7 linked regions of the Homo sapiens genome follow. The protein of the gene in region 7 interacts with the protein of the main gene of each other region in a pairwise test. Each region holds a gene or a part of one and is shown on either strand. Other genes may lie near its edges. The genes, in order: FAM3C, LEUTX, MS4A13, TMEM218, SLC38A7, TMEM97 and AQP2.

Region 1 (4,015 bases), on a different chromosome or scaffold from region 7:
AGCAAGCAGAGAAAAAAGGCTTAAATTGAGCGAGTTTGGATGGAAATAGAAATTAACTAGTTACAGCATGTGATAATCAAAAATCAAGTATGTGGTAGAAAAATCATTCTGAAAAGAGACAGAAAATCCTTTTGAGGAATGCAAAGGTGCAATCTGTTATTTTATTCTATAGCTCTAAATTTACATGGATTTATTGCTGTACAAGAGGTTGAAATAATTGAAGAGGTTTAAGTGACAAATCTCCCTAATCAACACAAGTAATTTATCTCTCTCATATTCCTTTGAAACAAAGTATTCTAAATGAATTTCCACTTTTAATTGCTCTACTAACTGAACATGGCACATTTTGCATTCAATTAAGGGAGAGTTTGTTGACCAAACTGAATGAAATTATAACTTTTTTGGTCAAGTTATTTAAAATTTATGTAAATTTTTAAAGTATAAAGTGCAACAGGCTAAATGAACTCAGCTTTGATCTGTCATAAAATTATAACATAGCTGATTCACTTAAAAACAAGTCCAATATAGAAAGAACAATGATAAATTTCCCATTAATCCAATTAAATTCAGGAATATAAAGACTCTGGTTCAATCTTCCTTTAATTTCCCAAATACCACTTATTTTCCTGCTTTCTCTTGTTCAATTTTAACATTCACATTACAATACACTTATTCTGGGACAGCATCGGATTACAAATAAAAAATATGCATCGATAAGCCCATAAGCACCATTTCAAATACTATGTCAATGTTAATTTGATTTTAATAAAGAACATTCTTAATATTAAATGAGCACTGTTTCATGTCTAAAACCGATTTTAAAGAGGTATCTGAAAATGTAGTATAAAGTTATTGCTTTCAAAGTTAAGTTGGCACAATCTATACAAGATTGAACTGAGACAAAAGGAAACCACACCAGTTAACATAACCAATCTTTGTCTTCTTTTAACATTTTATATATCTGGAAAAGCTATCCTTTTACAGTCTTAATAAAAGGGCTTTTTCCGCCATCTAGATACTTAGCTTCTTACATGTTAAGACACATCTAGGATATTACTATTTTTAACCACAGCAACAATTTTTTTTCCAAGTTAGGCAGTATAATAAATGCTTGAAAAACCTTGTGTGAGTTTTTGTGAAGTTCTGTAGGTATATTACTTTGCCAGATAATACAAAAAAAAAAAAAAATTCACAAAGCAAAACCAAGAGTATTTATTTTCATTATTTTAAAAAACTGCAACATTTATTTCACAATCCCTGGAACTGTAAAATAACTATTCTTTTAATTTACAGAATTGAGGGAAGTATTTTAAATGTCAAAATACACATGCTGAATGTGATTTAGCATATAAGCACCAAAAATCCCAAAAGTATACAAAGATTGTTTAAACATATAAGGTGCATTTATTCATGAATTAATTACATTCAGTTTGAAGGAAGAAACAGTACTCCAAAGTTCATCAATATTTAAGAAATTATCCGAATAGCTTCCAACTTGGTTTACAGCTAAATAACAGATACTGCTTTTAGGTTTTTTTATACAATGCATCTAAACTTTAGGTTCGAAATTTAAGTGCTGCCTTACACTGTGAATGGCAGTTTGATCACTAAATTTATGTTCCAGTTTGAGATACTTCATACACAACATATATTTAATGCCCTGAAAACTTCTGCTTAAAAACTGAGTTATTTAGTGAACATCTGAAGGTAACAAAAAAAGATAGATCTTCTATATTTTTATGTAGAATTGGGTATAAAGTCATTTGGGGTCAAACACAATTATTTTTTAAATGTTATCAGTCCGCCCAGTAATAAGAACTTTTGTAAATATGCCACTATAGCTTCGGGCAATAATTGCTATTATGAAGTTAGATAAACACAGGATTAATTTCTTGGTTTACAAATCAAAATTATTGTGATATTAAAGCATGCCTCCTTCCAAACCACTTGGTCAATGCTGATAACAATTAAGAAAAACGTATGCTAGTATTGCTCTAAATATACTGACTTAGCTGTCCTGAATGACCTAATTAGGTTGGGGAGGGGACTTGGCCTGGTTCTCCAGTTCTGTGAAGCTGCCACCTCCAGCCTCACTCTAAATAGCTTATACAAAATCAAGTTATTCCCATAGCTAACACAAATCCAGCAAGCTGTGGTCCTAAATGCCATCTACATTTATATATTTACTTTTTTACTGTGTACATTAAGAATTTTGTTGTGCTTTTCACATATCCGATGTATGTTTTCATATTAAACATTCCTCAGTTTCTTGGGAAGGAAAGAAAAAGATCATGAAAAGAGGTACATCAGGAGAGTCGGACTGTAAAGTAACATTACACACACAACTAGCCAAATCTCTTTTTAATTTAAAAGATAATGTCATCACAACGCAACATATAGAAACATAAAAGAAAATAAAGTATCCACCCTAAAATCCCTATTATTCCATGATATTTTCATAGCAACTAGTATATATATCAATATATTTTTCACAAACCATTCAGTTACACATTGTGTATGCTTTTAGAATTTAAAATATGTATTACCATAGCAGTCTAAACATTGTACTTTTAGGGAAATGTGCGGAGACATGGTTCAGTGATTTGATCATTGTGATGATTATTTACAATGCTATCTATTTACGTTAGCAATAAATAATCCTGATATCAAAAGAGACAATACTCATGCACACACCAAGATGGCTGCATGCTCTTAAAATATTTACACATAGCTCTGCCATTTATAGCTCTCCCATTAAGAGTGAAAGTGCGCTTTCTTCAATTCTCTCCACATTTCCATTAGTCTTGCTTCTGGGGGATGCATCCTTCCATTTCTACAACTTCAGGCCATCCTTCATATTTGTTTGTATCCTTATTGTTCTTTATGTGCTATTGGAACACAGTAATAATATACAGTTTAAAAAACCGTTGTAAACTGCTGATTTGCCGTAACATTTTACACACTTCTCATTTCAGTAATACTCATGTCAACAATAAGTTCATTTAAATTACTGGTCAAGATATTAAATGAGTGACCCTCAGGCTGTATCACATACATGGCAGACCTTCAAATAACAGCTGAAAGAATACATTGCACGTGCTTTTAAAGGATTATTTGCTACTCAAAAACTAACATTTACATTCTACTAAGTTCTAAAATATTTCCAAACTTCACTGATTCTAAAATCCAAAGCTCAATTAAAATCCTTAATAACTAAAGCTTCCGAAAAGGCTTAAGATAGGTAATCCTATTCCAATGCATTGTCCTGTAGGAAAAAATATTCCCATGCAGAATTTTCAAGTTTTGAAATTTAAAAGTACGATAGTTATTTCAAATAACTGATTACCAAGAATTTATGACAAATATATGATCATATTTACTATCCGCTTTATCTAATTTTCAAATAGCTGGGATGGGAAAATGTACCGTAAGGTTTCACAGAATTTGTTTTTGTTAATTCTGAGAGTCTATGACACTAACCTGTTCAAAAGGGCTTTTTGTCTTAATGCCCTTCCCACCACAGAAGACCCAGTTGTCTCTAAAACCAAGATTAGTAATAGATGTGCTCCCCAAATCAGCAATGAGCCGCCGTGCCTCATCATTGAGTCTTGAAGAGGGAGAGAAAGAATACAACAATAAACAGAGGGAACTGTATGCTAATACTGGTTCACTGGGATATTAACACAAAACATGAGACAAAATGAGACTTTAAATAACAGAACATTTTGGAAAATAATTTTTTTTCAGAGTTACATTTCTACTGGTTGAATTCTTTAGTGACAAAAGACATGAACTCCAACAATTAATTTTAAGTTTATTCTATTAAAAGGACCTGTTAGGTTTTTATTTCACAACAATTCACCTTCATTTAACTTTTTAAATTACACTCATCAAATAAATAAGGGATACCACAGTTAGTAGATGCCTATCCAGGCTATCCAAGGTCTTAAGCAATCAATATTTTTATAAAATTAATCTTTTTGAATCTCCACTAAACCCTCTGTAAATTACATTT
Region 2 (3,553 bases), on a different chromosome or scaffold from region 7:
TGTGCTGGCAAATCCTTTTTGAGGAGTAACTGGGAGCTGTACATTTTGACCCCTTCTCTGCACTGCTCTGGTTGGGGGAGTGTGGTGGAGGAAGGCTAGCCCTGAAGTGCTTGTGTGCCTGCTTAAAACCACCTTTTTCTCTGTGAGCTAGGGAGACTCACATATGCCTAATCCCTTCCATTTCCAGAGCTAGGGGATTTAGGATGCAGTCCCTTGAGTGCAGGTATAAAAGTTGGGGTGCTCAATGTGTGGACAAACTTCTTCCAGGAGGAATTGATAGACCTGGATTTATTGCTGGGCTGAGCTGGGGTGAAGCTTTGGGTGGCACCTAGCTTCTGTTCAGGCTCTTGTAAGTCTGTAGTTTACCTACCTAGTCAACTCCCTGATGCAGGCTCGTTAGGAACTTAACCATCAACTGTTAGGGTGCTATATGTGTGGTTCACTGCTTCTCTCCTGGGGGAGAAGCTGGGAACTGGGGATTCCTTCCTGATTGTATGGCTCAGTGCCCAGGGTGGGTTTAGTGTTTCTGAGTGCTTCAGCTTTTGCTGCCTGTTTGATAAGACATTTTTTTTCTTGTCTTTTCTTCCTTTTCTTTTTTTTTTTTTTTGAGATGGAGTCTTACTCTGTCGCCCAGGCTGGAGTGCAGTGGTGCAATCTTGGCTCACGCAACCTCCGCCTCCCGGGTTCAAGCAATTCTCTTGCCTCAGCCTCCCAAGCAGCTGGGACTACAGGTGCCCACCACCACACCCAGCTAATTTTTTGTATTTTTAGTAGAGACAGCGTTTCACCATGTTAGCCGGGATGGTCTTGATCTCCTGACCTCGTGATCCACCCACCTTGGCCTCCCAAAGTGCTGGAATTACAGGCGTGAGCCACCGCGACTGGCCTGCTAAGACATTTTCTTAGTTGCCTGGTGTGTAGGAGTCTCTCCACTCACTTCTGACTTTCTTCCAGAGAGAACTGATGTAGGCACAGACGTTTATTCAGTCCATCAATCAGGAACCTCCTATGTCACTGTGTTCCTGGCGTCACTTCTCTGAATACAATCTTTAATGCTGAAATTTGGGTGAGGAGGCACTCAAATGGAGTTCAGAAAATGCAGGCAATGATGAAAGGTAGGGGAGTTCCTTTATTGTTTTTTCTACAGAAAAAGATAAATTCCCAGCCCCTGATCTACTTAGACTGGGGTCAAACCATTAAAGATGTGTGGAAATATGTCTCAGTGGGTCAGATCCAGACCTCCCCTAGAAGTGATGTGTAAGAAGTTACACTGAAGATTGGAGCTGGTCATACTCAAGGCATACTGGAAAAAGATATTGATTTAGGCTGCTGGTGTCATCTTCCCCTGGCAAGTCATAGATCTTTACAAATTCATCTATTTCAAAGAGAGTGGAGGCCCAAGGAGGATTTGAAGCCCCCAGACATATCTGTTCAATGTCATATGACTGAGAATCCCAGGATGAAACCCTCGCAGAGGCGCTGGCTCCTCCAGGATTCTTGATACCAGAAGGCTCACGTAGATCATGGTCATTTGCATCAGAGATTCCAGGACTTACTGGACGAATGTTTGCAGTAGTTATGGCTGAGGGAGTCTCCTCCTTCTTCACTGAAGTTGTCTGGTTTGCTGGCCCTAGTGATGGCCGTGTCTGCATTTGCTGCCGCTGCTGCCTCTTCCATTTGGCACGCTGGTTCTTGAACCAGATCTAAGGAGGGAGGAGGGGGGAGGTTAATAATGGATGTTGAGTATAAAGGGGCATCCTCATGTTCCTCAGGAATTCGGTTTTTTGGTGTGAGAGAGAGTCTCACATTTATTGGAACAAGGGAAGCCCTTTCTACTCTCTGCTGTCCTGGGTTTCAAGGGAAAAGTGGGTGTAGGATTGTACTAGCAATGGGTGGAATATGACCTAGATTGTGATGTATTAAATAGAAGGGTGTTTTTATTAGTGGTGTATTTTTTTTTTTTGAGACAAGCTACCACTCTGTCACCCAGCCTGGAGTGCAGTGCTGCAATCATAGCTCGCTGCAGCCTTGAACTCCTGGGCTTAAGCAATCCTCCTATCTCAGTCTCCCAAGTAGCTGGGACTACAGCCATGTGCCTCCATGTCTGGTTAATTTTTAATTTTTGTTTGTAAAGACATGGTCTTGCTATGTTGCCCAGGCTGGTCTTAAACTGGGCTTAAGCGATCCTCCTGCCTCCACCTCCCAAAGTGCTGGGATTACAAGTGTGAGCCACCATTCCTGGTGCCCAGAGAAAGTATTTTAAAGTCAGAGTATGGGGTGAGAGTTTAGCTTGGGTCATCTTTAGGGTTCATCCAGGTGTTCTCCCATGAATACTTTGTGGGAACTTAGTGACAGGCATCTGGATGACTGTGATGGTCCTGATTAAGCAGAACCCATCCTGAATACACAAGAACAGACCCAAATGGGAGTATCTGAGATCCAGCCTCAAAGAGTCCTGTGTAGCATGGTGGGTCTGGAGTTGGAAAGGTCTGGGTTCAAATTCCAACTCTTGTGTTTATAATGCTTGGAAGACAGCTCTTCTATGTGAGCTTTAGTGTTCCTCAATAAAGTGGGTGCTCATGACAATAAAAATATAAAGTGCTTAACATCTGTCCTTACACATAGCAATTGCCAATAAATAGGAACTGTTATAACAATGATCAAAAGTGTGTGTGAAGCTCTGGGTTAGGCGTGCTACCTACAGACACACTTGGGAACAGACCTTTACTACGGATAGATCAAGTTGTAGCTTTGAAGCCAGTTTCCCCATTGTAGCCAAACTTGGGTGCATGGTCTTTTCAAGCAATTCTCTCAATGCTGTGAGTTGTTTGGAGAGAAATCTTGTGCGTGGCCGACGATAACGCCTTGGCCCTTCTGCAGAGGGAACAGATAAAAGGCTTTCATTAAAAAAATTCGGAAGGAAATGAGGAGAGTACTACATCAAGGGAACACCTGTGGGACAAAAGAATCTGAACAACAGCCTTGAGCCCTAGACCGTCCCTCTGACAGAGCCTACACAAATGAGAAGGAACCAGAAAACCAAATCTGGTAATATGACAACACAAGGTTCTTTAACATCCCCAAAAAATCACATTAGTTCATCAGCAATGGATCCAAACCAAGAAGAAATCCGTGATATACCTGAAAAAGAATTCTGAAGGTCAGTTATTAAGCTAATCAAGGAGGCACCAGAGAAAAGTGAAGCCCAATTTAAGGAAATTAAAAAAAAAGATACAAGAAATGAGGGGAGAAATCTTCAGTGAAATAGAGAGCATAAATAAAAAATAATAAAAACTTTAGGAGACAATGGACGCCCTTTTATCCACTAGACCTAAGAAATGAGATAGACAGCAACACAATGACCAAGAACCCAAAAGCAAATGCAATAAAAACAAAGATAAATAGCTAGGACTTTATTAAACTAAAGAGATTTTGCATGGCAAAAGGAACAGCAGAGTTCTAGACAACCCACAGTCTAGAAGAAAATCTTCACAATCTATACATTTGACAAATGACTAATATCCAGAATCTGCAACGAACTCAAACAAATTAG
Region 3 (4,584 bases), on a different chromosome or scaffold from region 7:
CCAGAAATTACTAGGTGTCTACAATTTGAACCATATGTGTCAGTAGCAGAATTCTTTTGTTTATTTGCAAAATGGTTTTATTGTCCAGGATTATACTTTTCTTGTATTAAGAGAATCATTAAGTGGCTCTGTGCCTAATACATAGACACTTGCCACTGAAGCTTTCAAATTTTTACTCACTTTAATTCAGCAAGTCAAGAATTCAAACATTCTCTTAATATTTACTAAAACTCACAGCCTAGAATTATTTTTGATTTAAAATTTTCAATCAAGAGCTCACAACTAAATCAAAGAATTTCATGAGGACGAATAAAAGCCTCATCTTACCTCCTAAGATTTCAAAATTATTAAAAAGAATAATTTTAAAATTAATATGTTCCCATAGAATTGGTCACTTACTGCTTGTCCATAATTCCTGTATGACACAGAATTAAAATGAGACAACTCTATTATTGTTAGAGTTACTGCAGTAATTGTAGTAATTATGCAGATGATGTTTATGATTAAAGTACTTATAATCTGAAAAGGAGACAGAGGGCAAATTTATTATATTCAGAATAAACATTTTGGTGTAATAGTTTGCATTGCTGAAAAAACTCATCTAGTTAAAACTTTGATCTAGTTTCTGAAGTCTTAGAAGTATTAAATATTAAGAAAATATTTTTCTGATTTATATGAAGCCCAGTTAATCTGGAGGAAACATTAACACCATCAGTCCATTAATCATTAATCTTCCATTTAGGCTAAAACATATTGTATTTTTTGGGGCCGGGCGCAGTGGCTCACGCCTGTAATCCCAGCACTTTGGGAGGCCGAGACGGGTGGATCACGAGGTCAGGAGATCGAGACCATCCTGGCTAACACGGTGAAACCCCATCTCTAGTAAAAATACAAAAAAATTAGCCGGGCTTGGTGGCGGGCACCTGTAGGCCCAGCTACTTGGGAGGCTGAGGCAGAATGGTGTAAACCCAGGAGGCAGAGCTTGCAGTGAGCCGAGATTGTGCCACTGCACTCCAGCCTGGGTGAGAGAGAGAGACTCCATCTCAAAAAAAAAAAAAAAAAAGTATTGTGTTTTTCAATGTTATAGGTCATTTGGAAGAAAGCATATAAGATATGATTTGGACAAAAGTGGTTCCACTGTAAGAAAAAAAAAAAAGTGGAAAATGACTGCTTGTAGAAATAGGAGTCAGTTGATAAAATTTTAATCCTGGGTTTTCATTATCTAAGGAAATCTATCAGTATCTTCAGACATCATTTTTTTATCTGTAAAATTATGAGGGCAGACTAATTTCTAAGGTACGTTTTAGCTCTAAGATTCTAAAGTGTTCTTCCCAATTCTATCCACCTATACCATGCATGGATCTTTAATCTGGACCAATTCTGTACTTTGTTACAGGACACAATCTTGTTCCCAAACTGGATAGTTCAGAAAATGAAGTTTTACAGTAGTATAATGTCTATATCTAAAGGCATTAGGTCCTATTAAAATTTTTTAATTATAAAGTTTACACAATGTTAAAAGGCAGAACATCAAACAAAACAAAAACTATATATACATTTAGAAACCTATACATAAAGTAATCATGATTTTAACCAATACAGTATATTTGTCTATATTAAATTATGTTCTTCTAGATTCATTCTTAATTCTTTCATTTACTTTACAGGTAGGGTAGATTCCTTCATTGTTTAGACGTTATATTTTCATTAAAACTTAATATTTAGCTTTGTGATAAGTGATTTCTAGAGATACCTCAAACATTTCAACTTACTCCAGATCGAGTCGGATACTTTGTTACTCTTATTAGGAAGACTCCTGCAATGATAAACTGGATATAAAAACATATTTATAAATACTCATTGATAATGCTTGCCAATTTAGAATGTACTTTTAATAACTCTCTTGTAAGTCAATTATTTTAAGAATGCTAATAGTAACAAAATATACAGAAGTTTTAGTAGATGGGTCAGGACAAATTTACATCATGTAGTAATACATTGAAAGGTAATAGTAGAGTCACTCATAACAGAGACACATAGGGGACAGTGGGCAGATTCACACTGTGATAATATGCCAGACAGCCTAAGCAGTCCTGACCGGGAACCAAGTTTGCTTTTATGTGTATGAGATACATCATATATAACTCATTTGATTATTGCTTTTAATGTTATCCTTCCTAATGAGATGATGACACTACTTATGATTACTATGTACATATCCAAATATGGAAAAAGTGGTTCAAGAATCTATTCCATATTGTGATGGTACAAAATATGCAGTCTCTTTTATGAGATTGTAGTCATTATTAAGGTAATGGCAGAAATTCATGCCTTTGCCTTTGTTTTTTAAAACAGAGGTTCCATTATTTCATGTCAGGAAGTCTGTCTACTTCCAAGAAGTATAAAACTATGCCATATTGTTTGAAGATGGGTTGCACAATTTCCTCAAAGTATTCCTTATTTGTTTTATTGATAAGACACTAAAGATCCAAGTCAAAGGCTATTTTTGTCATGCTATACACTATATGTAGGAAGCCCAAACCTGAAGCTTACAAACTTCCCATGGATAATTTTAAATCTATTTGTTCAGCACTTCATTCCACAACAAAAGCTGAGATTTCTAAGGAGGTACACAGTGAACGTAAGAACTAGCTCAGAATTTAAAGTGAAAATATCTTGTGAATTTTGAATTAGAGTGCTCTCTAATGAGATTATCTTTCGATTACTATGTGTTTTACAAAATGCCTTTCAAAGTTTAGGCTTAAGTGAGAAGTTTAGTATTAAATTACATTTAGTTGAAATTTTAGATAAGTTATCCTAGGAGTTTAATATACTATTTTTATAATATGAGTGGTCAAACACTAAGGAAAATGCATCATTTATTTGGATTTTGTTGGAAAATCCACAGTTTTTCTCCTCTTTTTTAAGGTAGTGCTTTGACACTTGTGACCCAGTGCATCATTTATCATTTATCACCTATGAACCAGTGCATTATTTATGAGCCATTCATCTTTTATGAACCATGTATCATTTATCTGGATTTTGTGCAAAAATTCAATATTTTTCTCCTATTTTTTCAAGGCAATCCATTGACACTTATGAATTAGTGTATGTATAAAAGTGGGAGACCTCCTAGAGATCATTGTTTCTTCTAGTGATTAATTGCTGTCTCAATGGGCAGCCATATTGTATCCTACAGCCCTCATTCCATCTGTTCGAAGTGTGGGATAAGTGGTTTCCTTGCTCATTATTGCTATCCAACCATTCTTTCTCCTCCACCTTTGAATCACATGTCAGTTTCTATAACTCACTATCCTTCATGGTTTAAGTAATCTATTGACCCCTTGGCCATTCCTCTTTTCGAATGAATTGAAATTTTGACTCTCTGATTCTCTCTCCAACATCACTTAATATTTGGTGATTTTTACACACACACACAAACACACACATACATATATATGTGTGTATATATCTATATATATACATCTATCTATCTATCTATCTATCTATCTATCTATCTATCTATCTGTCTGATCTTTTGATATGGTTTGGCTCTGTGTCCCCACCCAAATCTCATCTTGTAGCTTCCATAATTCCCATGTGTTGTGGGCGGGACCCAGTGGGAGATAATTGAATCATGGGAGCGGGTCCTTCCCATGCTGTTCTTGTGATAGTGAATAAGTCCTATGAGATCTGATGGTTTTAAAAATGGGAGTTTCCCTGCACAAGCCCTCTCTCTTTGCCTGCTGCCATTCATGTAAGATGTGACTTGCTCCTCCTTGCCTTCTGCCACAATTGTGAGGCCTTCCCAGCCATGAGAAACTGTAAGTCCAACAAACCTCTATCTTTTGTAAATTGCCCAGTCTCAGGTATGTCTTTATTAGCAGCATAAAAATGGACTATTACAATAAATTGGCACCAGGAGTGGGGTGCTGCTGAAAAGATACCCAAAAATTTGGAAGTGACTTTGGAACTGGGTAACAGGCAGATGTTAGGACAGTTTGGAGGACTTAGAAGAAGACAGGAAAATGTGGGAAAGTTTGGAACTCCCTAGAGACTTGTCAGATGGCTTTGACCAAAATGCCAATAATGATATGAAAAATGAAATCAAGGCTGAGGTGGTCTCAGATGGAAGATGAGGAATTTGTTGGGAATTAGAGCAAGGTGACTCTTGTTATGTTTTAGCAAAGAGACTGGTGGCATTTTTCCCTAGAGATTTGTGGAACTTTGAACTTGAGAGAGATGATTTAAGATATCTGGCAGAAGAAATGATCTAAGCAGCAAACCTTTCAAGAGGTGACTTGGATGCTGTTAAAGGCATTCAGTTTTATAAGGCAAGCACAGCATAAAAGTTCAAAAAAATTTACAGCCTGACAATGTGATAGAAAAGAAAAACCCATTTTCTGAGGAGAAATTTAAGCCAGCTGCAGAAATTTGCATAAGAAATGAGGAGCTGAATGTTAATTCTCAAGACAATGGGGAAAATGTCTCCAGGGCATGTCTGAGATCTTCATGGCAGCCCCTCCCATCACAGGCCCTGAAGCCTAGGAGGAAAAAGTGGTTTCATGGGCCGGGCCCAGGGCC
Region 4 (4,584 bases), on a different chromosome or scaffold from region 7:
CACAGCTCAGGAGGCAAAACGAAAGCAACAGCTTTACCTTAACTTCCACTTCTGGGGCTGGGAATTCACCAGCTCGCGGGAAAAGCAACAGAACTGATGTGATGATCACAGCACCGAAGAATAAAAAAATGACAGAGAACCTGGGGTTAAAAAGACAAATTATTAAAAGCACTGTCTATAATTTCTTCTTTGATCAGTTAGGTCTGGACAGTCTCTTCCTTGGAGCCAATATTCTATGTTTCAGTCCCTTAACAATGTCCAGAGGCCTGCTGTCAACAACCTCTTCATCCCAAAGTCCTTCTTCCTAGACAGGTACCAGCTGGGTGCATTCCCATTTATTCTTGGTAATTCCCAATTCCTAAGAATGGAAATGTGTAGTTTTTATTTTTACTTCTGCCCAAAGTCATAATCAAGAAAAACCAAAGCATCCCCTCTCCACCTCCACTTCTGTTGTTTTTAGAACAGAATACTTTAGAAAATTCTACAACTCTCTGCTTCATACTAACACTGTCTTGCCAGAGTGCAACTCTAGTGTTTTCAGAGTCGGTTTATGGCCTAACCCTGTTCTGAAGGCAATGCCTGATATAGAAAGCAGGCCCAACTCATCAAATGTTGCTTTCGTTTTCCTGGGTCCAGGGCTAGAGCCTCGGGTACTGGACCAAGCCTCTGCCATAAATCTGAACAATTCATAAACACATACACATACAGCCTCAAGAAACTCAATAAGCAGTGAAAGCAGAGTTTCTTGCCACAGTTAGAACTCAAGAACACTACTTCCTTCTCCTCCCATCTCTGCTCCAGAGCATAAATAACACAGTTAGTGTTTATAAAAAGAGGTTAAAATGCAACTCATTCAAACTGCCAGTAATTACAAAACTGATCTCTTAAATTCTAAATGTTTAGTGAGCATCAGCGATTTTGCCTCTAATTGCTTTACCTAGGACTCCCAGTTGGACAGAATGCCTTACCTCGCCGCCCCGGAGGCTCTGGACAGCAGCACACACAGCAGCAGCACTGCCACCCAGAGCAGGGCTAAGATGAACACGCCCGCACCGACTCCGAGCACAGTGCCAGCCATCCCGCGGGGAGGCAGCGGCGGCCCCCCGCCCTGCGCGCCGCACGATCGAGTGTCCTCTGTGCTCCAGTGCAACACACTCCCGTGAAAGCATTCAGACAAATACAGAAAGCCTAAACTCATTACAGGTTATTTTTTGATGATCAGTGTGTTAGGAGGATTACTCAGTACAGGTCATTAATTTTCAGAAATGTCCAGTCCCAGAGTCCCTTAATGGAAACTGGAAATTTAGAACCCAAAGCCTTTCTCTTTGGTGGGGACTGAGAGGGTGTTTTCCGCTCTGCGCTCAGAAGTTTTTTCTGAGTGTTTCCTTTCAAATTTGGTACCTGAGTTCTACTTTGACCTCTTCCCCCAGCCCACGGGAGAAAGCTGAACCCTCTCTGAATATAAAACCCTACCTAAGAACTGGTAGAAGACACCAGGGCATGGGAACTCCAGGGCCAAAGCAGAAGTTGAAGCTCTCAGGTTAAATCCATGGTGTGAGCTGTGACTCACCAGGCAATGGATCACAAGACAGAAAGTTCCCACTCTGTTGTCGAGTTCTTATTCAAGAGGATGAAAACTCCCAGTCCTTAAAGAAGAGGAACAGCCATCACTATTTTTGAACATTCACTGTGTGCTAAGTGCCGTACAAACATATCTCATTGAATCCCGGAGCGAAGCTTCTGAGAAAGGTATTACTATAGCCATGTTACAGGATGGGTAAGTGAGATATAAGCGCGATGGGGTATCTATTAGTTTCCTAATTAGCAGCTCAAAATAGAAATTTATTTTCTCACAGGCCAGCAATCCAAAATAAAGGTGTCAGCAGGGCTGTGCTCCCTCCAAAGGCTCTAGGGCAGGGGTCCCCAACCCCTGGGCCATGGACTGGTACTGGTCCATGGCCTTTTAGGAACTGGGCCGCACAGGAGGAGGTGAGCAGCAGGCAAGCCAGCCTTACCACCTGAGCTTCGCCTCCTGTCCTATCAGTGGCAGCGGCATTAGGTTCTCACAGGAGCACGAACCCTAGTGTGGACTGCACGTGCGAAGCATCTAGGTTGCAGGCTCCTTATGAGAATCTAATGCCTGAAGATCTGAGGTGGAACAGTTTCATCCGGAAACCACCCCCCTGCATCCCCCTGTGGAAAAACTGTCTTCCATGAAACCAGTCCCTGGTACCAAAAAGATTGGGGATCAGTGCTCTAGGGGAGAATCTTTCCCTGCCTCTTCCATCTTCTGGTAGCTCCAGGCACCATTCACTGGCTTTTAACTCACAACTCCAGTCTCTGCCTCCATCTTCCCATGGCATTCTCCTGTGTCTGTCTTCACATTTTCTGTCTCTTATAACGGTACTTGTCATTGGATTTAGGGTCTGTACAAATAATCTAGTATTATCTTGAGATGCTTAACTTAATTAAATCTGCAAAGACCCTTTTGTCAAACAAGGTCATGGTCACAGATTCCAGGGGTGAGGATGCGGACATATATTTTTGGGGACCACCATTCAACTCACAGCAGAGGAACAGCACACCACACTACCTCTCCTGGTTTTCCTTTTCAGCATTGGAGACAAGTCTTAAGCAAACACATTCCTCTAGGTTGCTGGTTTTCTTTACCCTTATGGTTTAAATACCACGAAAATATTAGCTATGAGAAGTTATAAAGTTATTGGAAAGGAGGGTCTAAGCATGAACTGGTAAAAAAAATACGTTTATTGAATCAACATTTATGATGTTCCCACCATGTAAAGCACTGCGCTACAAGCTGGGGATGCCAAAGGTGAATAAGATATCTTCTGACAGAAGCTCAAGGTCTATTGGAGAACATTGTCCTGAAAACAAGTGTCCATATTACATTCTGATTAATGGTAAAAGCGAAGTGCAGTGGGAACTGCAATAGTGAGAGGGGCTTTACAAAGGAAATACTCTGCACAGGCACATTTAGGAAAGAATCAGAGTGAAAAGATGACAGAGTGAGGGGAGATGGGACCTGGGGCCCACCTGCATGCCTAACTTCTCTGGGGAGCAGTCTGCCCTCATTAGGGCCACATGGGCGCCATCTCGGTCACTCTAACACGCCCGGGGTTTCCCCATCTCTGGGTCTTTGTACTTGCTGTTTCCACTGCCTGGAACTAGCCCTCAACCCCAAGCACTCCTGCTACTATTTGTAGGACTGGCTTTCCTCAGCCTTCTGATTTCTGCTTAAATGTCACTCTTCAGTGAGGTCTTCCCCGAGTGTCTTCTCTAAAGTAACCCCTCAAACACTGACTCTCCATCACTCTATTTCCTTCAGAGCATTTTTCACAAAACTAGTTAATATTTTCATTTATTTGTTTACAAGTTTATTTTCTGTCTGTCCAACTAGAATAGTAAACTCCACGAAGGCAGAGACCTGATATCTTTCTCACTGTGGTAACCCCAGTTCTTAGCACAGAGATTATGCACAACAAGTATCTGTGGGAGGAATAAATGACACAGTGCTAACAAGTCCACAAACATCAGGTGAGGGAGTGAAAGGATCATATGGAGTTTTAGAAAGATGACTGTAACCTCTGGTCAATATGCTGGATGGAAGTTAACAAGGGAAGTGCCTCATACAACAGCAAACACATAAATGTTCAATAAAATAGAACAAGAAGAATTTAGTACACAGCAGAGCTCGAAAGCAATAAAGAAAAATCATTAAGTGCTATAAAAAAATGTAACTCAAGGCCTGAGCTGAGCCTAAAAGTCTACGAGGGTCCTGGTGCCTGATACAGACCTTCAGGGTGATTCTCTTCAGGGCAGATAAGGTCTCAAGCCCACGATGGCAAAGAACTAGCAATGAGAACAATGCAGAAAGCTGGGCCCTCACAGGATTGACCAGTTTTTGAAATAGGGTCTAAATAATTTGCTACTGACTTAGTTGGAAGGAAGCTGGCTGAGTGCTTCAGGCCACAGGTCAAAAAACAACAGCCCAAGAGAAATCTGAATCCCCACCTCACATCATATCCATGTGTGAGATTCAATACTACCGATGTGATATGGGAATCCCAAATAGAAAGATTAACATGAAAACTAGACTAAAAGTGAGAACCCATTGGATCCCAGCAGAGACAAAACTAAACCCACAGGCTGGCATGCAAGACTCCCTCAAGAGTAAGTGTAAAACAAAGATGTTTTCAGACATACAAAGGGTGAAATGTAGTACACCTCTCAAGGATCCTCAGTGAAAGGGCTACTCAGAGACATACTTCAGCAAGAAGGAAAATGAACCAAGAAAGGAGGTATGAGATACAGGAAGCATGGTGAGAAAATTATTAAGAAATATTGACAGTAAAGATTTCTGTAATAATGACAATTTTTGAGGGGTTAAAAATCAGAAAGGACTAAATATTACTCAACAGTTATATGGTAGATGGAAAAGGATAGTTCAAAGTTAAAGCATTCTACAGTGATTTTGTTTTGGAGGAGGTATATGTTTTTTAAGCTAAGTACACAAGTTAAAAAAACATACAGGTAAACAGCAAGCAACAGAAATAGAAAAAATAG
Region 5 (4,584 bases), on a different chromosome or scaffold from region 7:
TCTCTTTTTTAGAGACAGGGTCTCACTCTGTTGCCCAGTTTGGAGTGTAATGGCATGATCATGGGTCTCTACAGCCTTGATCTCATAGGCTCAAGCGATCCTCCCACCTCAGCCTCCCAAGTAGCTGGGTCCACAGGTGCATGTTACCATAACCTGGCTAATTTTTAAATTTTTTGTAGAGATGGAGTTTCACCATGTTGCCCAGCCTGTCTTGAACTCCTGGGCTCCAGAGAACCTCCCACCTTGGCCTCCCATAGCTGAGATTATAGGTGTGAGCCACTGTGACTGGCCTCATCGCTTTCTAATTTTTTTTTAACTGTACTATCACACTGGTCTTTAAGTAAACAATAATACAAATAAAAATAATAACAATAATAATAGTAATTAATTTTTACAGGCTTATTTTCTGTCTCCCCAGCCAGGACATGAGCCCCAGGAGAATAGGGATTTGGCTGTTTGCCTCTCTTGTTCCTGGCTGTGTATTCAGAGGCTAGAACAGTATTGGCCCAGGCAGCTCCTACGGTCTATCCGTGGAAAGAACTCAGGGGATCCTTCTTCCAGGGTCTCCTAGACTTGCTCCCTCACCCCAACCACTCTCCACACGGCAGCCAGAGCCACCTTTCCCCGAACCACCCCCCTGCTTAAAACACTTCCTCGATGACTCCCAGCAGCCCTCGAGGCCCAACAGGATCTGGCTGCCAGTGCCTGTCTGGCCTCACTGCCTTCACCTGCCCCCATCACACACCACTCCAGCCACATAGACTTTCTTCCTGGCCCTGCCTCAGTGATTTGGTGTTTTGTGGTTCCTCTGCCTGGAACCCTTCTTCCCCAGCTCCTCCTCTTCTGGCTCTTTCTCATCATTTGGGCCTTCTCTGAGAAGAACCTTCTGTGAACCACTCCCAAAGCCACCCATCCAGTCCCATTCATACCTTCCCCATTTTAGGCTGGGTTGGTGGCTCATGCCTGTAACCCCAGCACTTTGGGAGGCCGAGGCAGGAGAATTGCTTGAGCCCAGGAATTCAAGACCAGGCTAGGCAACATAGTGAGACCTTGTCTCTGCTAGAAAAAAAAAAAAAAAAAAATTAGCTGGGCACAATGGCACATGGCTGTAGTCCCAGCTACTCTGGAGGCTGAGGCAGGAGGATCACTCGACCTCAGCAGGTTGAGGTTGCAGTGAGCTATCATCATGCCACTGCACTCCAGCCTGGGCGACAGTTTCTGAGACCCTTTCTCAAAACAAAATAAAATAGAATAAAACAAAACACACCTTCCCTATTTCACTGTCATCAGGATGCTTGCCACCATCTGGAATTCCTTACTGATTCCCCAGTTACTCCTGCATGACTGTCTCTCCAACAAGAATGTCAACTCCATGAGGGCAAGACCAGTTCTGTCTCTCTCCATGGCATCCCCCATGCTGAGAACCGTTCCTGGCACTTCCTAGGCACCAAGTTAGAACTGGTGAATGAATGGATGAATACACCACTCTCATCTTGGCAGGAGGAGGCTCCAGGCAGGCCAAGTTCAAGCCAATGCCTATACAAGTCATGCTGGGAATGCAGGGCTGTCCCCAGGAAAGCTAGGCCCCAGGACCTAGGGACTCCTGTGGAAGTGAGAGCACTCTAGTCCCAGGTCTTGGGGGGGGGGAGCACTCACCTGTCCCCATGTAGACAGCGAGGGCTATGACCATGGCAGCTGTCACCACTCCACCCCAGGTCTTCACTTCAGGCTGCTGCATGCTGTTGAAGACGGGCACACTGCTGACGTGGCACTGTCCAGGTGAAGGGCACCGTCATGGTGGGGAAATGACCTCAACCCCAGTTTCCAGAGGAAGGTACCTTGGGAACAAAGACCCCAGGAACAAGGGGCAAGTCCTGAGGCCCCTGTTCCATCCTTCCCCCCAGGATTTCCTCCATTCTGCCTGGGTTCCTCCTCCTTGCTGGGTTCCATCCCAGGGTGGGGTGATCTAAGGGGACAGCAGGGACCTTGCAACTGGCACTGGCACCTGAAATCCGAAGCAGATGGTGGGCATGGCATTGAACACAGCCATCCAGGAAGCCGGCCTGTGAACAAACACACATGGTGCTGCCACCTGGGAACCCCTCAGAGCCACAACCCACCCCACGCCCTCACTCTTCGGTCAGCCCACCATGGTCTCCAGCAACTGGGATTCCATAGCTTCAACCCACAGAAGTCTGGGAACAGGGAGAAGAGGCATCCTTATGTCCCAGGGCCCTCTGGGATGGGGCCTGGAGGTTCAGAAAAGCCCCCCTGGGGCCAAAATCCAGAATTCCTGGCTCCTGGACTGGGGCTTTTGCTTTACTGGTTTGTTCCTTTCAAAAGAAGGAAATTGTTTTTTTTGTTTTGTTTTGTTTTGTATTTTTTTGAGATGGAGTCTTGCTCTGTCACCCAGGCTGGAGTGCAGTGGCGCGATCTCGGCTCACTGCAACTTCTGCCTCCCAGGTTCACGCCATTCTCCTGCCTCAGCCTCCCGAGTAGCTGCTACTACAGGCGCCTGCCACCACACCCGGCTAATTTTTTTGTATTTTTTAAGTAGAGACGGGGTTTCACCGTGTTAGCCAGGATGGTCTCAATCTCCTGACCTCATGATCCGCCCGCCTCGGCCTCCCAATGTGCTGGGATTACAGGCGTGAGCCATTGTGCCTGGCCCCCCCCCTTTTTTTTTAATAATAAATTCACCCTCAAAGATACAGAAATTACAGATAAGCAGATGCTGGAAACACAGGCAATTCGACCCTGGGATTCCACCCTCAGGTTCCTCCACAACCCAAGGCCTAGCCTCACACTGGCTCATCTGTTGGATGTAGGTGGCAAAGTGCCTCCTGTCTCTGATTCTTGCTCTTCCTTCCAGTAACATCAGAGCAGGGGCTCTTTCCTCCTTCCTACAATGACCAAGTCAGCCCTGATGAGCTCATGAGCCTTGAGAAGAGCACCTGTGTGGCCTTCTGGTTCCTGACCCAGCACCTGCTGGGGCCCAAGTGGTGGCTTCTTCCCCATGTCTCCTAGGGCCCTCACCCTCACCTGGTCAGGATGTTCCCTGGGGTCATCTCTTTATCTGGCCAGATGTACTTGATGATAACGATGGCTGTGACGTACCAGGTACCCACGACGCTCAGGAAGCTGCCGGGAAGGAGAGACTAAGTGTCCTCATCCCCAGCTGCCTCTTATCTGATTCCACCCCTAGGGACATCCACCTTCAGCTCTAGCGACCACAAGTGTCCACTGAATGAACCGGAGACTATGCCAAGCAGACTCAGGAAACGCCTGAGAAGTAGTTTCAGAGAAACCTGCCACAGCTAGGAAGGAGCTGGACAGCCAACAGGGGACCTGATCAGCATTCCTGGCCATCAGGAAGTGCTGGTTCAGCTCCATGGCTCAGAGACGATGCAGAGAGCAGAGCTCCAAAGCACACCTGGGACTTGAATCAGAGCAGCCCAGCCCGGGCAGGGGCTGTGGGAGACCATCCTCTGAGCCTGGCCTTTGAGAACTAAGAGATGCCAGAGGTAAGAGGGTTGAGAGTACAGACACTTTTGTGTCAACATTTATGGGAGCCTTGGAGAGAGCGGAGCATGGCCCCTGCACTTACAGACGGGGAAGCCTAGAATCCCACAGCCTTTCAGACACCGAGACAGGAAACCAGTCTCCTTCCTTCATGCCAAGCTGCAGGTAAGATGCTGGTAGGCTGACAGTCTCAAAGACCCAAATTCCTCCCAGGGAATGCCAGGAGGCTGCCTTCACCGCCCAGATACCACCTGTTCCTTCTTTGACAAGGGCACTTAGAACTGAACTACTCATGGATGCAAAAGGACATTTAGAACTGAATCTCTCATGGATGCATCCTTTTTCTATGATGGAGACAGAAAAGGATGGTCTTATCTGAAACCCTGCAAGCCCCGGTCTGCCCTGCCTTGCCTACTCTTGCTCCCCAAGGTGAGGTGGCATGGAGGAGCAGGGTTCCCCAGGAGCCCTTGGGTCTACAGCTGCCCAGGATCATAGCTTCTGTCTGACCCAGGCTGGGGCCTCCAAACCTGGCATATTTCTGGAAACCAATCTCCCTGGGGATGGAGAGGGGCAGGATGAAGAGGAAGGCAGTGAGGCTGATGGTGAACTTGCGGTCTGTGTACCAAGGGCCGCTGGCCCCCTCCGGCTCTTTCGCCATCACAGCTATAACTGCACAGGGAGGAAGGAGGGAATGTCAAGCCAGGCCACCATGGGGTGTGGCCCTCCTGCTCTGCTGGGCCCCAGGACCTCCCTCTGCCTGGAGGGAGGATTCCCAGATGAATGCTGGGCCCAGGTAAGTCCTGGAGAGGTGTTCAGTGCCTTTTCCCTCCACCCCAGGATCCCTGGGGCTGATAAGAAGAGATGGGGTAGGGACTGAGGGAGAAGCTCACTCTTGTCCTGCTGGTCGCCAATGATGATTAGGAAGGCAATGCAGGTGCCAAAGGTGTAGACAGCGATGGCCACCTCACATAGCACACCTGTCAGCTTGCCACACACAGCCCATACCACCTCCTGGTAGGTCCTCTCATTGCTGGCCTGGGAGCAGTAGGCCAGGATGACAAG
Region 6 (4,577 bases), on a different chromosome or scaffold from region 7:
TCCAAGGGGAGGGAAATCCCTGCCCCATGGCATCTGTTTGTTCAGTAATTATATATAGGTGAGAGGATCAGAAGGCAGATTCAGTGACCCCAGGGGGTGCCAATGGGAAACGAGCATTTTCAGTGGTTTTAGCTTATCAAGTACACGTGTATGGTCACCTTTTTAAAAAAGCATTGATTATATGAGAACACTAAGAATAATTTTAAAATGAGAAGCACATTAGGGATTAGCCTGATGCTACAGCTTATAAGTCAGTATGATACTATCCAACGCAGAGAAATAAAAGCCAACAAAAAGAGAAATTAATTCTGTTGGGGAACAAAACAAAAGGGAACAAGCTCATTGTTTAAGTGGTCTCAGGCTTCATGTGTATGCAAGGGATTTCCAGACGACTGAGGCAGCCGTGCAGGCCTGCTGACCACAGACATGAGCCTGAGCCACACTAATGTCCCTTTACAAGATCTACCCTGGCTATTTACCCCAGATCCTGTAGCATTCTCCCACAAACTATGGGGACCATCCCCTTCCCTTTGGAGATACTTTCCCAAAAGATTTCTGGGACCTGATTTCTGAGTAAAAATGGGATTTTCCCACCATTTACCAACCTTTGAGGAAGGCATACGTTGCAATGGGAAAGAAAGGCAGCTGAAACACAAGCTCGCAAAACAGAAAGGACTTAAACCAGGCTGGGGGCTCCTGTAGCAGTGGGTCTTTGAACTCCTTAGCATACCACTTCAGCAGGTTTCTAAACTGAAAAAGAAAACGATCATGATGAATTACAGCCACTTGCCCTCAACAGGCTCGGCGCTAGCTCATTTGAAAATACACTGGAGGAGCCTGTCATTAATTAGCCACCCCCCACTACCCCGGCAGCAGATGGCATGTCCAGCTGGCTTTTGTGACACAGCCTAGGTGGTCATTTAATAAAAACTTACTATCCCTAACTCAAATGTTCCCTTCTCTGAAATTTTCTCAACTCTTCCAGCCCCTTCTTTGTGTTACCCAGAATCTGTTCATAATTCCAAGATAACACATCCAGGTGTGTTGGCCACTGTCAGGAGCAACAATAAGTATCTGGCACTTGGTAGGCACTCAGGGTGTTCGCTGAATGAACAAATGTGACATTTCTGTCAACAATATCATTCTTTGTTTAAAAAAACAAATACACATGAAAACCATCCTGACACTTTCCCTTTTGTAATGGCAACTACACACCAAACTCCTCCAAAGGCCAGATTCCCTCAAATGCAGAAATGAATTGAATTTCCCTCTTCTTTTTGCGGGGTGGGGGTGGGAGTGAAAGGGGAAGTAAATCTAACCTCTGTGGCGATGTAATTTTGGACACTTTAATTCCAATATGACAAACAAGTTCCTTAACTCCCCTAATTCTAATTTTTGGTTTATTTTAGGAGACAGGATTTTAGTGGAAGAACAAACTCTGCCCCAAACTACAAACTACCTAGTAGCTTCTTGGTTATGCAGGGTTTTAGCGTCTCAGTTCTAGCTTGGGCCCCACGCTTGTAATTACCTTGTCAAATAAAAAGGATGCGGATCCATGCTGACCTGGCTACAGGCAGAGAAAAGAAGCAGAGTTTAAGGCTTCCCATCTTGGGCTTTTATAGGAGCCCAAAGCCTAGTGCTCTTGGCTCTATGTGGACTACTAAACGTTTGTCACATTTAACCTCCTAGATGTGGCGCTGCCCTGACACACAGGCCTTCAAAGACAAATAAGTCTTGATATTATGATTAATAAAGGCAACTCCAGGGTAAGAATTTATCTTACTTACAATGGAAAATCCAAGAATATTTTTCCTGTTAATTTTTAATCAAAAGATAAAGCCTCGCTATTGTGAAATAGAAGCCCCACTGCTGCAAGAGCACTTTAAGCAAACATCCAGAAACAAATATCCTGTTAGCATATTATTAATTTCAGAAAGGCTTTGGCTAGATAACCAATTTATTGACCAAAGGATATCCAAATTTGTACTTAATTTGAAATTGAAATTCATAGCAATGCCCTTCGCTTCCTTCTAAGCACTTTTCTGGATGGGAATGTGGTTTGAATAGGATTGAATTGATAAGAAACACAAAGGCTAAGTCACTGTCCCTCTCCAGGGTTCTACTTCCTCATCTGTAAAATGAGCAACTTGGACTAGATGTTTTCTTAAGATCCCTTTTTTGCTTTTTAGATTTTTAAAAATACTGGATGACACTACCTGCTTTAAAAGATTGACTATAAAATTATTATTATTTTTTTTGAGACAGTCTCTGTTGCCCAGGCTGGTGGAGTGTGGTGATTTGATCTCGGCCCACTGCAGCCTCAACATCCCGGGCTCAGATGATTCTGTCACCTCAGCTTCCCCAGTAGCTGGGACTACAGGTATGCGCCACCAAGCCCAGCTAATTTTCTGTAGAGACGGGGTTTTGCCACATTGCCCAGGCTGGTTTCGAACTCCTGGGCACAAGCGATCCTCGCTTCAGCCTCCCAAAGTGCTGGGATTACAGGTGTGAGCCACTGCACCCGGCCTGACTGCAAAATTTAAGAGGCATTCTGGGCCAGGCCCGGTGGCTCATGCCTATAATCCCAGCACTTTGGGAGGTCAAGGCGGGTGGATCACCTGAGGTCAGGAGTTTGAGACCAGCCTGGCCAACATGGTGAAACCTCGTCTCTACTAAAAATACAAAAATTAGCTGGGTGTGGTGGCTCACGCCTGTAATCCTAGCAACTCTGGAGGCTGAGGTTGCAGTGAGCCGAGATCGAGCCACTGCACTCCGGCCTGGGTGACAGAGCGAGACTCCATCTCAAAAAAAAATTAAAAAAAAAAAAAGGCATTCTGGCCATTTGAACTTCACTTTCTATTCAATTTGTTTACAACCTCTCTGATCCAACTATTTCATAAACTGAGGCAGACTTGTACAGCACTTTAATTTCTAAGGCCTACAAGATGAGATCAGCAAAATTTAAAAAACAATCACCCAGATGTCGTAATAATGAATTATCATAATCGTAACCAACCATCTGCCCACAGTCATATACCTGCCACCTGATGCCAGAATGAGGCTGGGACTAATTGTGAGTAGGAGAGTAGAAAGCCCAGGCACCTGGCAGATGGGTGAGGCGTGTAGGACCTGGGGTAGAGTGCCTGGCTTTAGGCAAGGCCTTTAATCTCCCTACACTTGTGTCCCCATCAATAAAATAGAGCCAGTAATAGTGCCTACTTCACTATTGGTAAGAGAGTGACTTAATACATGTAGTCTTTAAAATAATGGCTAGCACATAATGATTAATTGAATGTAATTAATACATATTTGGAGATATTCAAGTTTAATCCCATTAAAATCGCAGCTCACGACTGGTCATTAAAAATTATTAGTTATGGCCTCCCTACCAAAGGTAATGAAACTGTTTCCACTTATACCTGACTCTATTTGACTCAACCCACCCTTGTTATACATAAAAGATTCACCTGGCCTGCACGCACGATCTCTAAACCAGTGGTTGCTACTCACCAATCTTGTACTTCTATAATTTAGAATGGGAACACAGACTGATTTCAGAGCCAGATGCTCACTTGTTTTTCCTTATTTTTACCAGAAGCAATGTTACCCAGCTGCAAATGATACTACAAAATGCTTCCCATCCTCTCCTTACCATGTTCTTATCCAAACTAAATTCTTACTGTTTCATAATAAAATAAGAGTTTTTCCAGGCCAGGCGTGGTGGTTCACACCTGTAATCCCAGCACTTTGGGAGGCTGAGGCATGCAGATCGCTTGAGGTCAGGAGTTTGAGACCAGCCTGGCCAACATGGTGAAACACCATCTATAACAAAATATAAAAATTAGCCAGGCGTTGTGGCAAGCACCTGTAATCCCAGCTATTTGGGATGCTGAGGCAGGAGAATTGCTTGAACCCGAGAGGCAGAGGTTGCAGTGAGCCGAGATTGCACCACTGCACTACAGCCTGGGCGACAAGAGACTGTCTCAAAAACAAAATCAAAAAAAAAAAAGAAAGAAAAACAAAAAGTAAATAAAAAAATGAGTTTTTCCAAGCAGTGATTTGGTGCAATCCAAGAAAAAAAATTTATTGTGCATGTTTCAGCCCAACCACTAGGTGATCTCCTACAGGTTTTTTAACTCTAGGGAAACATTCCTTCTATTTCAGGAAGAAAATGACAGATGTTAAATTTTGGCATTTTTCAAAGAGAATATGAGAATAACTCAAGGCGTTTATTATTATTTGCCCCATAGAGAAGCAACAAAATCAGCATTTCCTACACCAAAGCAACAAGAATGGAGGCACAGACCTTCCATGCCAGGATGCCACCGAGCTAATGCCTTCAAACATCATCACACACACAGATACACACACACCCAGGATGCCCGTGCTAATGCCTAAATCTCACACAAACACACACACACACACACACACACACACACACACACACACACAGGTTCTGGCCAGATGCTGCCTGCACTGGCCCTTGGGCCTTCTGCAGTAAGTCAGCATTAAAAAAATAAAGCTGACGCTGGGCACGGTGGGTCACACCTGTAATCTCAGCACTTTGGGAGCCCGAG
Region 7 (5,153 bases):
AGCAAAACTGACTCTGTAGCCCATTAGATTGGGGCCTGAGGCTGGGAGCCTGCAGTATGAGAGGAAAAGAATGCTGAGATCCGGAATTTCTGTTTCCCAAAGAACAAGAAGGGAAGAGGTTTCAACTGCCTCAGGAAGCTTTGGGCCGGTTAGCAGGAAGACCTTCCTCTGTCTGTAGACCATCAGACCTTGGTGCAATGAGAGGCCTGTGGTCTTTCTTCCTGAGGTTAAATGGCTCCCAGAGACAGGGTCTAGGGACTTGGGTCTGGGGGACAGTCCTAGTGTGCCCCTTTCCGCTATGAGTCCGGAATCTACCTCTTTCCCTAACCCTTGTCTATTCCCCACTGCCTTTCAGGCCTCAGGTTTGCCCTGTTAGTTTGCTCCCTGCACATCCTATGGAGGTTGGGGTAAGGGCCCTGGAGCTGTGTTGGACAATGCCTCCACACCCATGTAGGCTGCCCATGGTCTCAGCAGACCCTGCCTTGGGTAAGGAGAGAACTCGGGGCTGAGTAAAGAGGTGATTTCATAACTGGGCCGCACCCAGCACTGGATTTCTCCTTGGGTTTTGTCACCCTGTACCCTACACCCTGCCTTCTGGGGCTGGGCACTGCACTGGGTGGAACAGTGACAGCTCTCAGCTCCCACGCTCTTTCTCCAGGCCCTGAACCCCCACCCCTGGGTCCGAGACATCAGGTCAGAACCCTTGGGTCTCTCTAGGGTCTAACCTCAATCCCTCCTATTGTTGTCCAATGCAGAGTCTCTAGAGGACAGTGAAAAGAGCTTTGGAAGCAGACACTTTGGAGGCCTCTGACTTGCCATGGGACTACTTAATTTGGCCTCAGTTTCTCCTTCTGTGAAATGGGATAAGAAAATGGATTCTGGAGGACTGTGGGAGGACTAGAAATGACATATTGGTTCTGTGACTTTGATCAATTGCTGTTGAGCCTCAATTTGCCACTCACCATAGGGGGAACCACAGAATTTCCCTTATAGCGTTGTACCAATGATGAGATGATAGCTGGCCTGGCACAGGGCAGGTGCATGTCAATGATTAACTTCCTGGTGGCCAGGCTGGCTCTCAGTGTCCTCAAAGGACACTTGGGATTGTCTTGAGGGTCATCTGGCTCTCCTTAGCCTCAGAGCAAGTTGGTCCCACCACTGCCCCATTCCATCCAGGCAGGGTTCTCCCCAGGTCCTCAAGGTGGTAAATGCTGAGAAGTGGCATGGAGGAGCCCTCCCAGACCTTTCTCTTCTGAGGGCCCCAGTCAGTTGTGAAATGATGGAGGAGGAGGACTGCATGTTTCCCATGGCCTTTCACTCCCAGTGCCCTGCTATTAGAGAAGGACTTCCTGGTCATGCTCTCAGGAAGTTCCTTTTTCAGTCTAACTGGACCTCTTCTTGCTGCAAACTGAACTAATTTTGTTCTCAGAGGAAATGAGCCCACTCCTCTGCTTGCCCACCTAGCCTTTCCTTGGCCCCTGGCCCCCAGCCTTGTCATATTTTCCTCTTTAAAGAACAGAGGCTGGGTGTGGTGGCTCATGCCTGTAATTCCAGCACTTTGGGAGGCTGAGGCGGGTGGATCACTTGAGGTTAGGAGTTTGAAACCAGCCTTACCAACGTGGCGAGTCCTGTCTCTACTAAAAATACAAAAATTAGCTGGGATTACAGGCGTGTAATCCCATGGGAGGCTGAGGCAAGAGAATGGCCTGAGGTGGAGGTTGCAGTGAGTTGAGATTGTACCATTGCACTCCAGCCTGGGCAATAGAGTGAGACTCCATCTCAAAAACAAAACAAAACAAAGCAGAGAAGTTCCCTAATTGGGATACCTCTGTCCCACAGATGAGGAAGGGCCACTTGTGCAGAGAAGGGGGCGCCCACAGAGATTGTGCGGGACTCATCAAAGACATCAGGACTCTTGTCCAGTGGCTCAAGGATGGAAAAGGCCGGGAACTACCGGAAACAAGCACAAAAGAGGCACTCACTGTCCTGGCTTAGGATGGGGGTACAGAGTGAGTGTTGATCTGTTGGGGGCACAGGTCATTCCTCCACATTCATGGGCCTTGGATTCACAGGGCCCACACAGACTTGAGAGGGGAAGTGGGTGGGACATGGGGGAAGGGACTGTGGCACCACCCTCAGCTCCCAAAGGGCCCACGGGGCCCAGTTAGCGCCTGTATCATGTAATCAGCAGCCAGCTTATGGGCTCCGGGGACCTCCTCAAGGTTTGGAGAAGTGAGTATGCCCATTGCTGCTTGCAGGGCTGTGGTGTGTCCGTGCCTGGCCTGTAAGGAGCACCTGCCACGGGACCTGCAAACCCTCAAAGCAGAAGAAATGCTGGGCCCCTCTTCTCTCTTGAGAACCCTGTGATGATCACTCCAAGGCTCCCCGCAGCTTGGAAAGCATGTCTGCTCGGGACACCAACCCCTGCTGAGGTATAGCCCTGTCTTCACTGTAATGTAGGCGTTGAGTCCAACAGAAACCTGGATGAGGCTCTTCCTGCACGACGGTCAGGGTGGAAGAAGCCAGCAGTCTGTCTGCATCCTGCTTTGCTCTGGTATCATTGCTCCTTTCATCCTGACCCTCCTATGGTGGCTGTGTTCCTGGCTCCAGCCTCTCTCTCTGCCTCTGTCTCCATCTCTCTCCCTACATCACCCAGAGCCCATCCCTCCCATCTCATCCTTTACAAGGGATTCCCCAGGACCTGCCCCTTGTGGATGGCAAAGTTGTGGCTACTCACAGCATTGACAGCCAGGTCCCCGCGGATGTCTGCTGGCGTGATCTCATGGAGCAGAGCGGCTCCGGCCACAGCCCCCAGCAGCTGGGCAGCCACGTAGAAGGCGGCTCGGAGAACGGAGACGTGGCAGCCCACCAGGCAGGCCACAGTCACGGCAGGGTTGATGTGGGCCCCGCTTATGTGGCCCAGAGCCTGTACCAGGGTGCCAATACCCAAGCCAAACGCCATGGCAATCTGTAGCACAGAGGGCAGGGCCTGTGGCCAGTTGAGGGCAGAGCCGAGGCCAAAGAAGACGAAGAGGAGTGTGGCCAGGAACTCTGCGAACACAGCCCTGGAGAAGGCTATGGAGCGGAGCTCCCACATGCTGCAGAGCCCTGCGGGGCTGGCCCAGCTGTCTCAGGGCCAGGATGCTCCGGGCACTCGCTCTCGCACTCTATCGCTCTCTTTCTCAAGGCCTCTGGGGAGGCTGGGTTGTGGGCATTTATAGGGTCCTTCCATCCCGGATCTGGGCACGTGGCGGGGAGGTGGAGTCGTTGAGGCCAATACCTCTTCTCCTCCATGGCGGCCTCTGCCCCCATGCCCCATCCCAGCCCACCCACAGGCCTATCACCCTATCTTGGCCTTCACAGCTGACTAATGTTCCCCATTTAATGAGCTCCAGATAAGGACTGACGTCCCTGGTTTTCCGTGTTTGTTCCCTTGGTTACCCCAGGGCTGCTGCCCCAGGGCGTCTCCCAGCCCCCACAGGGTCTTGTGAATGGGAACGTCTGGTGGGGATTGTGCCCGGCCCCCATCTCTCTGACTCAAACTGTTGACCAAGGCAGGGGCAACACCTCACACAAAACTAAGAGAGAACATGAGTGCTGCTCCTTCTGGTAACTGGGAAGTTCTTCTGTCAGACCTCCAATTATTCCTGCTTCACAGGGATGGAAAACAACTGGTTGGCTTGTGACAAATTTCCAAGGCATAAAGGTTTGTGTCTTCTGTGCTTGCATTCTTGCAGCTAATCACCCATAAATCATTAAGCTTCACCTTCTCCTGGGAGCCCCAGCCAAACAGCAGCTCCTAGAGCCTGGGGGCACTGGGACCCTGGCCCTTGGTGATGGAGTCAACCTGGGGCGGCTGAGGAAGCTGAGGGTGTCCATTCTGGCATCAGCCTGTTCCATCTATGTGACTTAACCTTTCTTGTCTTTCTCTGTAAAATGGGGAGAATAAAACTGACCTAGTGGATTGGGGTTTGGATTGAATGAAACAATGTATGTCAAGTGCTCAGAGCAGCGCCTCGTCCACAGTAGGTGGTCAATGAATATCAGCCCTTACTTACAGTATTATTTGCACTTTGAGGAGAACAGGTCTTTGCACACTCATTTGTTGGGGTCCCAGAAGCTGTGACAGGTCCTAGAAACCCTGAGGAGCTCAGGGCCGCTCTGGCCACAGGAGAAAGACATTTCTGTGGGGCAGTGAGCTGTGCAGGCTCGGGGCGGCTGTGATGCCTGATAAGCAGCTCTCTGGCCTTGGTGCCCACTCAGCTCAGCATCTGGGCAGTGCTGCCTCCTGCTATCAGTGCTGCTGTGGCCACTGGGGTCCTGGAGGCGTTCAAGTCTAGAAGTTTCCCCAGCCCCACTCACTGGCCCTTCCCTAATCCCTCCAGCCTCGCTCCCTCTCCTGGGGATTCACAGCAGGGTCAGGCTCAGAGTGGGGACAGAAGGACGGGCTTCTGCACCCTGCCCTAGCTCCTGTCCAGCAGGTCCCTGGGCAAGTCACAGTCGCAGGAACAGAAATCTGGGAGAGATTGGAGACTGGAGTGGAGCGCTTTGTGTTGTATCATGGGGATGTGGGGTGGGCAGGAGGGGTGAGTATAGGCCCAGGGAGGGGAGTGACTTATCTAGGGTGCTCCAGCAGGTTAGTGGCTGAGCTGGGACTGGAGCCTGGTCTGGAGCTTTCTGCCACACCCCACACTACCGAGCCACATTCTGCGCCTCAGTTTCCTTGTCTGGACAATGGGAGTGTGGATGCCTACCCCATAAAGTTGTTTTGAGAATGCAGTAAGATAATGAACGGGAAGGTATTTTGCAACTGAGAATGTATCATATACATATATATATGGGGACTCGTGACTCCTGCTATTATGAAGGAGGAGGAAGAGAAAGCGGAAGAGGAAGGGGAGGAAGAAAGAATAAAAATTACCCATACAGAAGTGATGTTCCAAAAGAGCAGGGATTCCTGTGGGGTTTGTTCTCCTGTGTATTTCCAGTGCCTAACTCCTGGCCTGACACATAGACACCTGGTGCCCTGGCACTCTTCCCTCAGCCATCCCTCCCAACTTCAGGCATTCTGGGTCCTCCGGGAGAAGATCGACGGAGAGGGGGACCCCAACCCCTGTCATATAAAGGGCATCTGGGGCCCACCTCCAGACTCT

Evidence for each region.
Region 1: the proteins of AQP2 (region 7) and FAM3C interact in binary tests that used the Homo sapiens proteins (3 or more experiments, as listed by UniProt).
Region 2: the proteins of AQP2 (region 7) and LEUTX interact in binary tests that used the Homo sapiens proteins (3 or more experiments, as listed by UniProt).
Region 3: the proteins of AQP2 (region 7) and MS4A13 interact in binary tests that used the Homo sapiens proteins (3 or more experiments, as listed by UniProt).
Region 4: the proteins of AQP2 (region 7) and TMEM218 interact in binary tests that used the Homo sapiens proteins (3 or more experiments, as listed by UniProt).
Region 5: the proteins of AQP2 (region 7) and SLC38A7 interact in binary tests that used the Homo sapiens proteins (3 or more experiments, as listed by UniProt).
Region 6: the proteins of AQP2 (region 7) and TMEM97 interact in binary tests that used the Homo sapiens proteins (3 or more experiments, as listed by UniProt).

What each region holds. Positions count from the first base shown.
Region 1 is NC_000007.14:121,347,663-121,351,677, forward strand, and holds the end of FAM3C (protein FAM3C precursor), read right to left. Parts: intron 3,608-4,015; coding exon 3,481-3,607; intron 2,889-3,480; coding exon 2,799-2,888; 3' UTR 1,216-2,798; downstream 1-1,215. UniProt on the Homo sapiens protein: May be involved in retinal laminar formation. Promotes epithelial to mesenchymal transition.
Region 2 is NC_000019.10:39,783,848-39,787,400, reverse strand, and holds the end of LEUTX (paired-like homeodomain transcription factor LEUTX), read right to left. Parts: intron 2,875-3,553; coding exon 2,723-2,874; intron 1,704-2,722; coding exon 1,266-1,703; 3' UTR 1,110-1,265; downstream 1-1,109.
Region 3 is NC_000011.10:60,521,142-60,525,725, reverse strand, and holds part of MS4A13 (membrane-spanning 4-domains subfamily A member 13), read right to left. Parts: intron 1,830-4,584; coding exon 1,773-1,829; intron 520-1,772; coding exon 400-519; intron 1-399. UniProt on the Homo sapiens protein: May be involved in signal transduction as a component of a multimeric receptor complex.
Region 4 is NC_000011.10:125,101,164-125,105,747, forward strand, and holds part of TMEM218 (transmembrane protein 218), read right to left. Parts: intron 1,647-4,584; 5' UTR 1,571-1,646; exon of another isoform or gene 1,503-1,570; coding exon of another isoform or gene 1,474-1,502; intron 1,189-1,473; exon of another isoform or gene 1,155-1,188; coding exon of another isoform or gene 1,079-1,154; coding exon 969-1,078; intron 359-968; coding exon of another isoform or gene 281-358; intron 141-280; coding exon 38-140; intron 1-37. UniProt on the Homo sapiens protein: May be involved in ciliary biogenesis or function.
Region 5 is NC_000016.10:58,674,284-58,678,867, forward strand, and holds part of SLC38A7 (sodium-coupled neutral amino acid transporter 7), read right to left. Parts: coding exon 4,413-4,584; intron 4,192-4,412; coding exon 4,050-4,191; intron 3,142-4,049; coding exon 3,043-3,141; intron 2,064-3,042; coding exon 2,006-2,063; intron 1,839-2,005; coding exon of another isoform or gene 1,793-1,838; exon of another isoform or gene 1,772-1,792; coding exon 1,657-1,771; intron 1,441-1,656; coding exon of another isoform or gene 1,331-1,440; exon of another isoform or gene 1,251-1,330; intron 1,060-1,250; coding exon of another isoform or gene 1,031-1,059; exon of another isoform or gene 967-1,030; intron 1-966. UniProt on the Homo sapiens protein: Symporter that selectively cotransports sodium ions and amino acids, such as L-glutamine and L-asparagine from the lysosome into the cytoplasm and may participates in mTORC1 activation. The transport activity requires an acidic lysosomal lumen.
Region 6 is NC_000017.11:28,321,676-28,326,252, reverse strand, and holds part of TMEM97 (sigma intracellular receptor 2), read right to left. Parts: intron 751-4,577; coding exon 606-750; intron 1-605. UniProt on the Homo sapiens protein: Sigma-2 receptor which contributes to ameliorate dysfunctional cellular processes and slow degenerative progression by regulating cell functions including cholesterol biosynthesis/trafficking, membrane trafficking, autophagy, lipid membrane-bound protein trafficking, and receptor stabilization at the cell surface.
Region 7 is NC_000012.12:49,948,775-49,953,927, reverse strand, and holds the start of AQP2 (aquaporin-2), read right to left. Parts: upstream 3,192-5,153; 5' UTR 3,098-3,191; coding exon 2,738-3,097; intron 2,417-2,737; exon of another isoform or gene 2,259-2,416; intron 2,010-2,258; exon of another isoform or gene 1,840-2,009; intron 1-1,839. UniProt on the Homo sapiens protein: Forms a water-specific channel that provides the plasma membranes of renal collecting duct with high permeability to water, thereby permitting water to move in the direction of an osmotic gradient. Plays an essential role in renal water homeostasis.